Regions from separate parts of the Homo sapiens genome. Here region 1 is reported to be linked to region 2. Evidence: microRNA targets listed by miRTarBase, many of them from high-throughput screens and not tested one by one. Region 2 holds a microRNA gene; the other region holds the end of a gene's coding sequence.

Region 1 (7,120 bases), not on the chromosome of region 2:
CTGCTGTCTAACCTGCAGGTAACTGCAGCATCTCGGCACAGGCACTTTCAGCAGAGCTTCTGCCCTCTGTCTACCATCTTTTGTAGCCAGTAGAATGCACACAGTCATTCAGACATGACTGTGTGTGCTGGCATCCTGTGCTCACTGCCATGCTGATGCTCACATGCTATGCCTGCCACAACTTCCTGCCCATGCTCCCCAGGTCTCCTCCTACCCCGCAGTGTCCTGTGTGCCCCTGCACATGCCTGTGGCTTCCCGGGCTTCTGACCACATCCACACCATCTTTGTGCCTCCTGAGAACACAGACCTGTACACACAAATGAGTAATCTCCCTGTTCTTGGCCCTTCCGCAGATCCTTGGACCTCTGGACCACGATGACCAGTGTGGGAAGCAGAAACTGGCCTACAAACTAGAACAAGTCATAACCCTCATGAGCTTAGACAGCTGAGAACCGTCCTTCCAGGGCCGCCCTGGAGGGGGACACACCAAGCCGTGCCTCAGTCTAGATTATCATCTTTACCAAGTGCAAGTTCCGACTGGCATCAGCAGCATCCCCTGAGCAGCGCTGTTTCTCTCTCTTTCTCTCTGCCTCTTTCCGTTTCTCCCTCCTTCCTGGATCTCTTCTCTTCCAGTTGCTCTGCCAACACGATTGGACCAAGCCACTGACCCTCAGTTAGTCCAAGAATGGCCAGGCCCATGGCAAGGGAGCTGACCAGAAGATGTCAGAGAGGCCTCTGTCTCCCAGGTGCTCCTGACCCTGTGCATGTCAGCAGCAGGGTGCAAATAACGAATGAGGAGCCAGGGACAGGGGACATTTCTGTGCTGCTACTTCACCTTCCACTTTGGCAGCCCCTGCTTTGGTCTGAGCCTTGGCCTAGGGAAGAGGCAAGGAAGGACTTCAGTATTATCTTTACTGGGAAGACATCACCTGGCTCTCCCTTCCCACAGTTCCATCTCCAGTGGTTCAGCCAGTGGTCTGATCGCTTTGCAGCTGTGAGAAGAAAGGCTACACCTCCTGCATGTGGCTGGAGCAGGGCATGTGTGGGCAGCTGGGAGGTGCTCCTTGAGGCTCCTTCTCCCCCACTGGGCTGGTGTCCAGAGGCTTCCTGTCCTTTTCCAGGTCTCCAGAGGGACCTGCCTGCCCTGCCTGCTCCCCCGCCAGTAGAAAGCCAGGCAGGAGAAAGAATAGCAATTACATTCCACCATGGAGATGCTCCTGACCTTTTCATCTGAATCCTAGTAGCAGAAATGTAACACAGGGGGAGAAAAGGAAAGAGAGTTGCATCTACCCTGGAAGCAGAATTTGTTTTCCATTTACCCTCAAATTCAAATGAGTCACAATCATAGTCATAGGTCTAGTCCACTACCAGAGCCCTGAGTGCTGTCAAGAGAAAGCATCTATCTCCACCCTCCTTTGTCAACCTTCATCAAGGGTCAACGTGAAATGCAGAGTGCATCTAGGAGATTCTACCTCCAGCCATCTCCATGGCTCCATCCCCATCATCCTTCCTGAGAACTCCATAGACGGCTGGGGCCAACAGCCTAGTCCCTGTTCCCTCTGCAGAATCCGGTGCCATTGCTATGCAGATGACTTTGTCACTGGGCTGTCCAGACCTCTTTGGGAATGATTTCATCAACATCTCAGCTGTCTCTCATCATTCTCCTTCCTCATCTCTTCAGCAGTCATCCTTGAAAGAAACAGACTTAAGCAAAGCCTCACGGAGACAGCCCAAAATGCCAGCCAACCTCAGCCTCCAGCTTGTCAGATCTGGGAGGGACAAAGAGTCGAGCTGATGGGCCTGGCTGGAATTAAGAAGAGGGACATACAAATGACCTTGGCCTTGGCATCCATCTCCCCATCTGTTCTTACATCTACAGATGCACGATTTTAGCCAGGCAGGCAAATGTGTGCCTAGAAATTGATACTAGGTAAGCAGAGGCTATGGGGAGAGATGGTCTAATGGAGGGTTCTAGGAACCTTTCATCCTAAGGAGACCTTAGGTGCTGTCTGGTGCAGTCTCCCATCCTAAGCAGGAGTCTCTGTTGGCACCTCTGCTCTGGAGTTGTTCACCACTATGGGAGACAAGGAGAAACATCTTAGGTGAGGTTGAGGAGAAGGATTCACAGTCTTGCCTTCACTCCCCAAACATCAGACATCATTCCTTGTCACCCACTCAGAATGAGCCCCCCTTGGGGAAGAAACCACACCATTTCCAGCAAAGTCCATGGAGCATCCGGTACTTTTAAGAACACTTGCCCCTTTGGATATGAATATGTGCACATGTGTGTGAGCACATGTATGTGTGTGTGTGTGTCTGCCCCAGGTGTAGGCGGAAAGCTCAAAAGGATTTCTTGTCCTTTGTAGGAGGATTTTTGAAGTGTTCCCCTTCTCTTTCCCCTTGCTCATCCATTCATCCTGCAGCTTCAGGACATTTCAACACTTACTTGCTTTCTATGCTGAGAGCTGGTGGGTGGAAGGAGAGGGCGCTTGTCCATAGGAAATCAGGGTGGTCGCCTGCCGAGGCCTGGACCTTGGAACAGGGCATCATGTGACATCGCAGAGGACAGATGGTGGAAAAGACATGAGCAACCTAATGGGAAGAGGAAAATGGGAAACAATGCATTGGAAGAGGAAGAAAAAAAATAAATAACCAAAGGTTTTGGCAAGTGCAGTACCAGGTGGAGAAGCTTGACTTTTCTATCCTTGATCATTTTATTCCCTCCCAAGAAGTCAGTCACAGGACCTGGAAGGCCAGAAAGGGTACATGTGGGAGACGGTCTGAGGAAGTACCTCGGTCACTACAATATTTTTGCACATATAAAGGGTTGGGGAGGAAAGAGACACAAACGTATTTAACACAGATTTGCTGGATGGAAGCTGCGTGTGTGAACGTGTGTATGAGTGAGTGCATTTTGATTTTTTTTTTTTTTTTTTGCACAGTTAAGAGAAAAAATCAAACAAGCAGAAAAAAAAAAGAAAAAAGACTTATCACGGTTCTGCTGAAGCTTTTATTTTTTACTGGATGATGATTATTGTTATTGTTACTTTGGCGGTACAGGACTTTATTTTATTCCATGTTTTTGTTATAAGAAAAATTTCAAACACCTCAGAGAAATAGAAAGGTTAGGAAGAAAGAGGAGACAAGGACAGACAAATTTTCTGGCTGTCCCCATTTCTCCTGGGGGAGGGGTTTGGGGCTGGTTTGACTTTAATTGGTGGGTGGGTTGTTTCTGCCGCTCTGTTTGCTGCAGTCCCCGTGGCCTGCTTGGGGACTGAGAAATTTGAGCCAGGTATCCAGAGCCACAGCCCATCTTGCTTATAAAAATTATCTTCTGCTGTTTGTTTTCCATTTCTTCCGTTTGGATTCTTGGTGCACGTGTGATATGGTATTTAAAAGCAAAGACAAGCAACATTGTCAAAAAGCTGTCCTTGCCCCCCATCCCCCACCCAAATCTTTTTTCCAAACTCCCCCAGGGATCTTCCTTACCCCACTGGCAGAGCAAACATCCAGGGGCTGTCCATGTGGCTTGCGGGCTCCCAGAGAAAGGAATTGGGCCAACTTTGTCCTGTGGGATGGAGGCCCCTTCACGGCCTCCCTCGAGGCAAAGTTAATTTGTAGGGTCACCATTATGTTGAGTCATGAGCAGACAGAAGGAGAGAAAAGGCCATCTTCCTTACCTTCCCCTCCAACTTATCCCGTACCCTCCCAGGGAAAATGGTACCAGACTGAGCCATCAAAATCACTGACAAAGTTTAGGTGGGAATTTTTTTTGCATGTTGGAGAGAGAAGGGCTTAAGGTAGCAGGGAAGAAGGGGGCTTTGTGGGGTCCTAAATTTTAAGGAATAAGTAGAGGAAGACAAGAAACAGAGTGGTAGGCTGGTCATTTCTCCTGGCCACAAGTCCCCCCAGATGCAGCTTTTACCCATTCTTTGTCCTTCCCCATAAGGAGAGACCCTGACATTTCTTGGTAGCTGCAAATAGTGCCACTAAGTGAAGGTGGCCATCATGCCAGTTACTTCCTCAGGAAAATATTTTCTTGCCTTCTTCTTTCAGTATGGTTTTAAATTTGGGAACAGTGGATAACCCAAGTGTCCCACAGGCCAAGGTACATTCCAATGGCAGCATGATCCCTGCACCCAAAGCCAGCCCCTAAAGCCTACCCCTTGTGCACCCGCAGCCTGGTAAGTGAGCTTGGCTGCTTGTGAGGAGCTACAAGTGAAAGAGAAGTTATTTTAAATAAATCCCAAAGTTTGAGGCAGACTGTCCAGGACTGTTCCCAGGAAGAAGCAGGAGTTACCCACAGGAAAAGTCTCTGACCTGGTCCCCTCAGGCCCAGCTACCTGCGCCCACCAGCAGTGAAGGTTGATGTACTGGCCCAGCATCTCCACCTCCCCCATGCAACCAGGTCCCTGGTACCGTGTCTCCCGTTGCATGTCTGGCTTCTGCCTGTGCTCCTCCTGCCACGAGCATCCTCCCTGTCCCTCCTCATTCCACCGTGTCTCTCCTGCACACATAGCCTCTGTCCCAGGGCGATTTATCCACTTGAGTACAGGAGCTGCTCAGACCTCTCAGCCCAGCCCTCTGTGACTGCCCCAGCCCCATCCTACCCCACCCAAAGCTGCCTTCCTGGCTGTAGGAGCTCCCTCGTCTAGCCAAGGCCCTATGGGTCCCCATCCGAGGATCCACAAGCAATGACTTCCCAAATGACCTCCACTGCAAGAAGAATCCTTACCACTGTTTCCAGAGCCGTGAACGATGCTGTGATGGGCCCAGGTCTCAGCACCACCCTCTGTGACCTAAAAAGAAAAGCTCAATTTCCATCTGTCTTCTTTCCCAGGACCAAGGGGACACAGTAATGTGAAGTCAAATACTTAACCGAGCAAAGGGCCAGTATTGTTATCAGTCAAGGACAAACCTCCCACCTCACAGACAGCCAAGCAGTGAGGGAAAGACAGACAGACATAGGTAGGAAGGTGCTCTGCAGGCACAAGGCCCAGAGAAGCCCCTCTCCGGGAACTTCCCCTGCTCCTTCCAGGAACAGTGAGCCCAGTGAGCAGCCCCAGCCAGCTCTTCAAGGCCTTCAAGGGGTCTTTCCATGACTGAGTCACCTCCAGGAGCTCACCTGACCCCCAGAGAAGACCTACCCCAGGCAGCTCCGTGCCCTGGCTTCTCCCCATGCCCCAAATCCCCCCCCGCCATCCCTCCTGGTCCTCGTCTACATCAAGGGCCTCTTCCCCTCTTCCTGCCAGCTCTCAGGACAGGTGACTGGGAGGCCTTGAACCCTCAGCCTCTTCCTTTAAAAAAAACAAAACAAAACAAAACTGTGGGCCATTTATTTGGGATTTTGGAGTTGTTTGGTTTTTGTTTGTATATCTTAATAGTTCGAAAGTAAGAAGGGAGCCCTGCTATGGATGTTAAGTCCAAATTACTCGGTTAGTGGGAGCAAAACCTATGACTTCCAAGGGGATGAGGAGAGGTTCAGAGGACAGGAGGAGCCTCCCCCATTGAAAAAAAAAAATGGGTCAGGACATTCCCTGGATGAGGACAATGCTAGGGGTGGCATCTCACATGGCTGCTGCTATTCCTGGTGCTTCCCCACACTTTTGACAGATGGAGTCCTTCTCCTACCGCCTCCTGCCACCTCACCCTACAGGCATTCTCTATGTAGGAAACAAGAGCCTTATTTTATAGAGTGGGGAGCTGAGACACAGCCTCAGGTAACACTGACACAGCTCCCGAATGAGGCTGGGACACTCTGCAAACCTCTCCTCATGGTGCTAAGGGTGGCATGCTCTTGACAGGAAACCTAAATGACCACTCCTCTCATTTGGAAAGTAATCCACTGCAGTAAAAGTTTCAGACATGCAAGAGAGAGTTTTTTTTTTTTTACTACAAATTTTTGCTCCCCCATAAAATTATTTTATTAGAGGGAGTATCCAAGTTTTAAAAGTATATAGAATTTTTTGGTTGTAAGAGAAATACATACTCATTAGGATCCCGATTAAATTCCTTGAGTAGACTGGTGCCTACCAGAAAGCAAAGCAAAGTTAAACAAAACGAAACAAAATCCTTCATATACAAAAAGAACTTTCTGTTTGTATTGGCAGAGGTAGTGAGGTGATTCAGGTAGGCTGAAAATCCTGGGTTGCGGGAGCCTCACTTTATTCCATTCCCACCCGCTTTGATGTCTATGCTTGGCTCTCTGGGCTGCCCCTGGTACTGCCGAATCCTACACATCTCTTATCAGCTTTCCTCAAACTTTAAGGAGGCTCTGTGAGGGATGGGTCATGGGAAGACCCAAGCTTTCCCTCCGCCAGGATTGCAAAAGCAAGTAGACTTGGTCTATGCAGCTCTTCTTCCAGCAATTTCTTTATTTGGAATTAGAACTTCCTTTGTTAGTATCTTTGATCTTTTGACTCAAGCACATTTTGGAAGGGCTCCCTTACAAAAGTAGAATTTAAAACAGAGGATACAGTTAAAGAGCAACCCAAAGGACGCTTAAGAAACCGAGACCACTTCACCAAACAGGACTAAGGAACACTTTCGTGCACAGAAGTCAGCCGCAATCCAGGCACAGGACGAAGATGGGATACACGTGCTCATCTGTCTGTCCTCCTTTCCTCTCCCTCCCCGACGTTCTAGTTAGCTTGTTGACTTGTTAAACCTTCTGTTCTTAAAATGAAAAGCTAGCTTACCTCAAAGAATCTTGTTTCCATTCGGAAACCAACGATTTTGTGTTTTAGAATGGACAGCCCTCCCCTCACCACTCCCTACCTTGGCCTGGTGTCCTTGAGACATACGGTCTTTGCTTAGTCGTGTGTTGGCTGCTTTGAGCAGGAACAAGGCCTCCAGGCCCTGAGGTGGGAAGGAAGGATTGGATGCCACTGCCCTCCTCCCCACTTTAGCATGTAGGGGCCAGCCCATCTCTTCCAGCAGGGTCCTGCTGAGTTACCATAGCAACCAGCAACTCCAGGGTACCACAACAGACAATGGCTCAGCGAGCCGACGTGTGGGGATGATGCAGGGGTTTTGGCCCAGCCAGAGGACCCAGAGTTGAGCTTCAAATGCTAGAGAAGGGGAGAAACAGGATGGAAGGGTGGTTTAAGGAACCGGCAGG
Region 2 (7,120 bases):
TTCTGAAACAGAAGTGGCTAGTTTGGGTCCAGCACTTATAACGAAAGGTTCCTGGTGTCACAGACCATGAAATAAGACTGTTTGAAGTTGTTCCCATGGAGAATCCCAGAGGACTTTAAAACTTCTGAGCAGGAAGATCCTTGACCCTTGCCCAACTCCTTTCCACTTAACAGCGATGCAACTGAGCTGAAGAGACTTGTCCAAAGCCACTGAGCAGGTTAGTTAGTGGCAGGGCTAAAATCTGTAATGAGGGGTTGGTCATGCGCAGGTTGCAAACAGCCTTGTCCAAGGATTCACACTTGGAGTAGATACATTGCACCCTCACTTTTGACTAGGCCTAACTTCTGGTACAAACCTGTGGAGTCAAAATCTGATTTTAAATATTGTAAAAAACAAAAACAAACAACCTCTCATTTTTCAGATCTCTCAATGAAAACTTTAGGGCCAAATCAAGAAATCATAAGGCTATCATAGGCCCTTACATAAAAATGGCCTTAAAATATACACACAACCTCCTTTTCATAGAAGACAGAGAGCCAGAGAGATAGAAATACAGAAAGAGAGGGAGAAAGAATACTTTGCCCCTGACATATACACACAAAAGTACTTGGCTTACTGTAAGCAAAAAGCAAAAAAAAAAAAAAAAAAAAACAAAACAAAAACCCTCAAACTCCTTTGTCTTAAGGGCAGAGAGAAAGGTGACAAAATTTGAAATAAAGTGAGCCACTGAAGACAGGAATGGGCAAACTCCAGCTAGCCTGGAACTATCCCGGTTTCCTCTGTGAACCAGCCTAGGGGCTTCCCCTCGGTCCGCCCCTGCACGGAAGGACGTGCGTGACACTGGGCTGCGTCATTGGCAGAACTGCCCGCGCCCAGAAAACGAGCTGGAGTGGAGAACAGAATGCAATTGCAGACAATCTTCCTCTGGTTCCCTGGGGAGGCCTGCTCTGGGCAGAGAGATCCCAGGGGACTGTGCGGGAAGGAGCTAAAGCAATAGCCCAAAAGCGCCAGGGAATGCACTTGAAGTTTCAGACGTTTTTCTTTTCTTTGAAACTAAGTTTCCAGCCCACCAGGAAAAACTGCCTCGCGACCTAGTGATTTTAATCTCACGCTTGGCCGCAAGCCGCTGCCTCGAGACTGGAAACCGGCCGCGAGGCGCTCTATCCCCCTGACCCCCTCCCCCCGCGCTCACCTGCGATATCCCAGAGCTGCAGGCGCACCACAGTCTCCGGGTCCCAGTGGAGCACCTTGAGCGCGAAGTCCACGCCGATTGTGGCCCGGTAGTGCGAAGAGAAGTTCTGGTGCACGTAGCGCTTGATGATACTGGTCTTCCCCACGCCCAGGTCGCCAATCACCAGCAACTTGTACAGGTGCTCCTTGTGCGGGGCCTGCATCCTGGCGGCCGGCCAGACGTGCCGTGCCTGACCAGGGAAGCGCAGCCTGGGCTCTGCGCACGAGAGAGACTTGGGGAGCGCAAGTGTAGGTGCAGAGAGAGGCGTGGGCGGCGGGGCGGGGGCTGGGGGGCGGAACTCCTCCCCTAGGGGTTAATCCTCCTTCCTACTCCGCGGTCTTGGAGAGGGGAGGAGACAGGAGCGAGTCCCGGGACTGGCAGCTGAAAGGGGTTCGCGTGTGGTTGCCTGTTGCAGCGCTTATTTATCCGGCGCTTTAGAGTTTCCGAAGAGCTGTTTTCACCTGTGACCCTGGCCACAAACTTGTGAGGTGTGGATCTTATTTTCCACGTTTTGCTTGCGAGAAAACTGATTGTGAAAAAGTACTCTGCGGGAGATGGCCGGTGAAAGGCCCCGTTGACCACAGGTCTGAAGTCACAGGCTCTTAACTACCCCACACTGTAGAGAGAAATTACAGTATTAGGAAGCCCAAGACTGGCTGGGCTTGGTTCCTGCGTGCCCTGGTTTTTAAGTTGAGGGACCATAAGTAAGTCATTTGAGCTCTCACAGCCTGTTATTTCTCAATGAATGGCAATGCTGACCTCTGAGCAGCTTGGAGGTGGGAACACTGAGCACTTTCACACCCATTCAACTGGTAATCAGTTAACAAGGAGGACAACTGGGCCGAAAATGCCAAGGGCACTGGTGACTTTTAGCCTCTTCCCATATCCTAAAAACTCAGAGCTGCACAGAAAGACAGTTTTAACAATCGGTCAGATTATTACAAATAATAATAATGGCAAACATTTATTGAGCACTCGCTATATGCCAGAGGGTTTATAAATTATGTCATTTAGTCATCCCAGCTGTCTTAATAATAGATACCATTTTTCTTCCTATTTTACAAATGAGGAAGCTAAGGACCAGACATTTTAAGTAATGGACCCAGAGTCAAATAGTAAGGAAAAAAACCAAATTCAAACATAGGTCTTTAGGTTCCCAACTTCTTTTTGTTGTTTTTGTTGTTTGTTTTCATTCATTTGACCAATATACATTTTATTACCAATTAATATATGACAAATTGTACTTATTTTGTCTTGTCTGTCTCCACCTACAAGAAGGTAAATTTTTTTGAGGCCAGTAGGCATTGTCTGCGTTAGGATTTCTGTATCATCCTCCTAACGCAGACAATGCCTACTGGCCTAAGAAAAATTTACCTTCTTGTGGGTGGAGACAGGACAAGACAAAATAAATACAATTTGTCATATATTAATTGGTAATAAAATAAGGCAGAAAGGGGATGTGAAGAGATTATATGGGGTTTGCCTTTTAGATAGGGTGGCCAGGGAAGGTTTCAGTAAGATGGAGACAATTTAGTAAAGACATAAAGAAAATGAGAAATTGGGCATTCAGGGCTAGGGGGTGAGCAGTTTATACCAAAATGAGCTATTTTGTACCTGAATGTGCTGTGAAGGAGCTCTGCTCACATTCTATCATTTCATCTTCTCAATTGCTTTATGAAGTGGGTTATTTTCTTCAATTTATAAATAAGGAAACCAAGATTAACAGCAGCTTTCTCAAGGGCACACATAACTAGTATGTGTTAGAACTAGGACTTAAACACAGGCCTGTGTGAAAGGGAGAAAGGAGGTTTGGCAAGGCCATTGTCTTTCTGCCTTCCTCTTCTGGCCTGACACTCCCTAAACTTTAGCCTCCACATGCCCCAAACAAGCAGAGGGATGCTGAAGATGTGTACCCGGGACAAGTCACATAACCTCTGAGCCTTGGTTTCCACATCAACGAAAGGAGAATGATAATACCTATGGCAGGGCATGGTTGCTCATGATTGTAATCCAAGCACTTTGGGAGGCTGAGGTGGGTGAATCACTTGAGGTCAGGAGTTCAAGACCAGCCTGGCCAACATGGTGAAACCCGTCTCTACTAAAAATACAAAAATTAGCCGGGCGTGGTGGCAGGTGACTATAATCCCAGCTACTTGAGAGGCTGAGACAGGAGACTATCTTGAACCAGGGATGCAGAGGTTGCAGTGAGCCAAGATCACACCATTGCTCTCCAGCCTGGGTAACCTGAGCAAGACTCTATCTCTAAATAAATAAATAAATAAATAAATAAATAAATACAAATGAAATTGTTGATAAAATGCTGGGTCCATAGTAGGTGGTAAATAAATTGTAGCTATTACTATGAAATGAGGGACAAGCTTAAAATACTGTCCACAGGCACTGTCCTGTGCAGTTTCATCTTTCCTCAGAGAGTAACTCAGAAGTTTTGCTCAGAATGGACACTAAGTGACAGTGTGTAGAATTGCAGTCGTTTGTGTTTTATTGAAGTGCTTAGCTGGGTAGGCCTCATTTACTGGTTTCCACCCATGCGAGGACACACCAAGAAGATCACATCTAACAAGTGAGACAAATACTCTACCTGCTTAAAGAATTAGCCAACAATGTCACCTCACTTCCCAGGGAGGGGAATTCAGTAGCCCAAGATGCTTAAGCCATTCTAAATGCCTGCAAAATTAGGGAGGATGACAAAATGAGACCTTTGCCAGCTCTAAAATCCTGGGTCTGTAAATCTGAGAGACAGGCTTTGTCTGGCCAACAAGCTCCTGGGGTAGAAACAAGGTAGGAGTTTGAGACATCTTGTGGGCCAGCCTTCAAAATTATACCCAACCCAACTTTCTTACCAGCCCCGTACTGTTTTCCCAAGCCTGGTCCCGGCAGAGTCATCCTCACCCTTATCTGTTCTCTTTTGAGCAAGAGCATATTGGAACATCAGACATTTGGATTTATGAGGTAGGACAGGCAGGGCAAAGTTCAGGATTTCTGGTCCTGAAGCTGATAAAATTGGAGGAAGTAGCTTTTTGAGCAAAAGAATGCAAAATCAAAAATATATAATTAGGTCTAGGGCCTTGGAAGGGGTCCTGAAGCTTCAGTTTTATTGCCTCTCTGGGGGTAGGAGATTCCTCTCTCAGGGACAGCAGCCAACCATGGTGAGCAAGTTCCTTGGCCAGGCAGGAAGTATGTGCAGTTTTGTTTCCAGCCGTACTCATTTAGGTCTCATGATCATTCTTCACAGTGGGAAGAAATTACTCTCGGTTTATATTTTTAAGACTTTTAGATTACAGTAGCTTGGTAAGCACCCCAGCCTAGCAGTTCAGTAAAATCTTCGTAAAAGGCGCCTAGGTCTCTGAACCTGAAAGTCCCTTGGGTAAAATGAGGGAGTTAGGTTGCAAGATCTCTGGAAAGTCCTTTGGACTCTAAAATATCAGAATTCTGGGTCTTCTAGACATTGTCTAGTAGGAGTGACACCCTAGCTGATTCTAGTCACCCCACAAGAGCACCACTGCCAAAGAGGTGATGTTTTCTCTCCTCTTTTAGGTTTGGAAGAAAGGCCATCTCAAAGCAAACATGATGCCATAGTTCTCCTCTGGTTTCATGGTGCTATTCTTTCCTCTGCTGCTGTACATTTTCCCACAAGACAAAGGCAATCCAAGAACATTCTTTTTGGAGGACAAACCTTCATGTACTCCCCTTCCTTGCTTTGAACTTATTTTCTACACTCAGAACTAGGCTGCAGACAGGGAGCCAGGTAGCCAGGGACAAACTATAAACTGGATCAAGCCAGACAGTGAATAGATGGAAAGGATATTATCAAGCAGCTAGACCATTCTTGCCTCCTCTTTCATTCAACCCTGTCCCCTGCAATTATGATGCTTCTTCAGAACCTATCTTCCCCAACCTGAACATATACCTGTCAAGATGGCTTAGGATTATCAGGAGGATCTCAGCTTTTTCTGACACAAAAGATCCAGTGCTTCCTCCCCATGGAGAGAACAGCTGTGCCATTCGTCCCCCTCCCAGCAGCCACACTGCACCATGGAAACCTGTTCTCCACAGTAATTCTCAAAACATCTCTGGTGATGTTTTGACAAGCTTACTACCCTCAAATTGCTAAACCACAGCACATCTTCTCACCAAGGTCGGGAAGGCTGATGACTCAAGTTTGTAAAAGGTGTGTGAGACCACAAAGTGCTCAGAATTCAAGCCAAGAATGATATCCCAGAAGGCACAGCATTAGGTTTCTCTTAGTCTCCATTCCCTTTCTGTCCAATGTGGGTACTTAGTCTTATGAAATGGAAAAACTACAATGATTGCAAATTGCTTTGCAAATGTAAACTTGAAGGGACAAACCCTCATGTTTTCCTCCTAGAGCTGCTGTGTTTGGTGAGCCCCTGTGAAGTCACATTATTTGCTTTTGCCATTAAGAGAGCCATGGGGAGTTATTCATTAGCTTATGTGAGCTTTTAATTATTGCTCTGAAGAAATATGTAAATGACTGCAAGATGGGGTCCCAAGGGCTCTGTTATAGAAAAGGTAATCTAATTTTTCTTAGATTAATACAAGAAATATATCTTACAACAGATGAATTTTACTCTGCAAAAGGCCTGGAAGAAATGACCATATATTTTATCATTCAAACTATGACTCTTGAGAGTGAAAGGGGGCACTATGAATAATTACACCAAACAACAGGAACAAGCCAGGACTTTCCTAAAGAATATTCATTCCTAAAGAAGAGGGAGAAGTTGAGGCTCTCAAATGAGATCTACAGCTATAGGGGCTTTGGAAAATTCTCCTAAACCACAATTTTAATAAATAGGTCTGCCAAGTTAAAGTTGCAGCTTATTTCTTTCTTGTCTTCAAAAAGTTCTCTCTTTACCCACTAGGCTTGTCTGAAACCTGTGCTAACTTGCAATTTGAGTCATCTAGTATTGATTCAGGATTGCAGCAGATGTCTAGAAGTAGGAAGCAACTTTTGGGTTATTTGGAGAGAGGCCAAGATGGATTCTGTATGGGATGTTCTTGAAATAAATACTCTTCAGTCTATGAGAAATTTCTGGCTAGATTTTTTTCCAGAAAAAAAAAGACTACAATAGGATATTTACGGGTTATCATGAGAAACTGATTGTAAGTGCATTTTTTAACCCACCAGTAGTATGAATCAAGAAAACCAGAGTATGACCTAAACCATTTTCAGCAGTGTATTTATCACCAACTAAAATTATGTGCCTTAGCTGTGCCAGACAGGCATGGCTGAATCGGGGTGTATTTTTCTACTAACACATCTAACATGGATGAGTGGAAATAAGCTATGGAATGGCCGAAAGGCAAGCATCTGAGAACATGGAGAAAAATGATTCTGTATGTACTAGAATTTCAACTTCCTTATCCTGGGAACCTACAATGAGCTAAGCCCTTTATCTTGGTAAGTTTATTTGATCTTCACGACCACTCTGTAGCAAGTATCTTCACTTTATAATGAGGGAAATAGGGCTCAAAGAATTTAAATAATTTTTCCAAAGTCACAGATATGGAGTGACAGCATGAGAATCGTAACCAGTAATTCCTAAATCTGTGCTTTTTCTACTATACCACACTCCTTTAGCATGTGATAAATTCCAGGTCCAGGCTTCTACTGTAGCTTTGTTTCTGCTATGCTACTAAATATTCAGGCTATAAAGAAAAGAGATTGATTCTATTTCCATTTGATAAAGTCTTAACTATGCAGGGAAACAGCCAATAAAGGAAGAAAAGAAAAATCTATGATTCAAAGATAAAAGGATATATCCCATAATCTCTCACCAACTCGGGCAGAAAGTCAACACAAGTAAAAGTGGCATGCTGTGCATTTGTGGGGAGAGGTCTGACCCA

The links. Region 2 holds the annotated microRNA hsa-miR-3166 (CGCAGACAAUGCCUACUGGCCUA, at 2,571-2,593, shown strand). A microRNA usually pairs through its seed, bases 2 to 8, with sites in the 3' UTR of a target mRNA and lowers its output. Matches are read on the target gene's strand: a 7mer-m8 pairs with bases 2 to 8, a 7mer-A1 pairs with bases 2 to 7 and ends in A, and an 8mer does both.
Region 1: miRTarBase lists PLXNA4 as a target of hsa-miR-3166. Seed matches in the 3' UTR shown: 7mer-m8 at 2,314-2,320.

Annotation. Positions count from the first base shown.
Region 1 is chr7:132,123,808-132,130,927 of GRCh38, reverse strand. PLXNA4 (plexin A4) reads left to right here. Exons shown (of 32, transcript NM_020911.2): 32 at 354-7,120. The coding sequence ends at 449. Among named protein-coding and RNA genes, the nearest start is that of PLXNA4-AS2, 130 kb to the left of the region's middle.
Region 2 is chr11:88,173,991-88,181,110 of GRCh38, forward strand. It overlaps MIR3166 (microRNA 3166), which reads left to right and starts at 2,512; the gene lies at 2,512-2,603. RAB38 (RAB38, member RAS oncogene family) reads right to left here and starts at 1,453. Exons shown (of 3, transcript NM_022337.3): 1 at 1,193-1,453. The coding sequence starts at 1,394.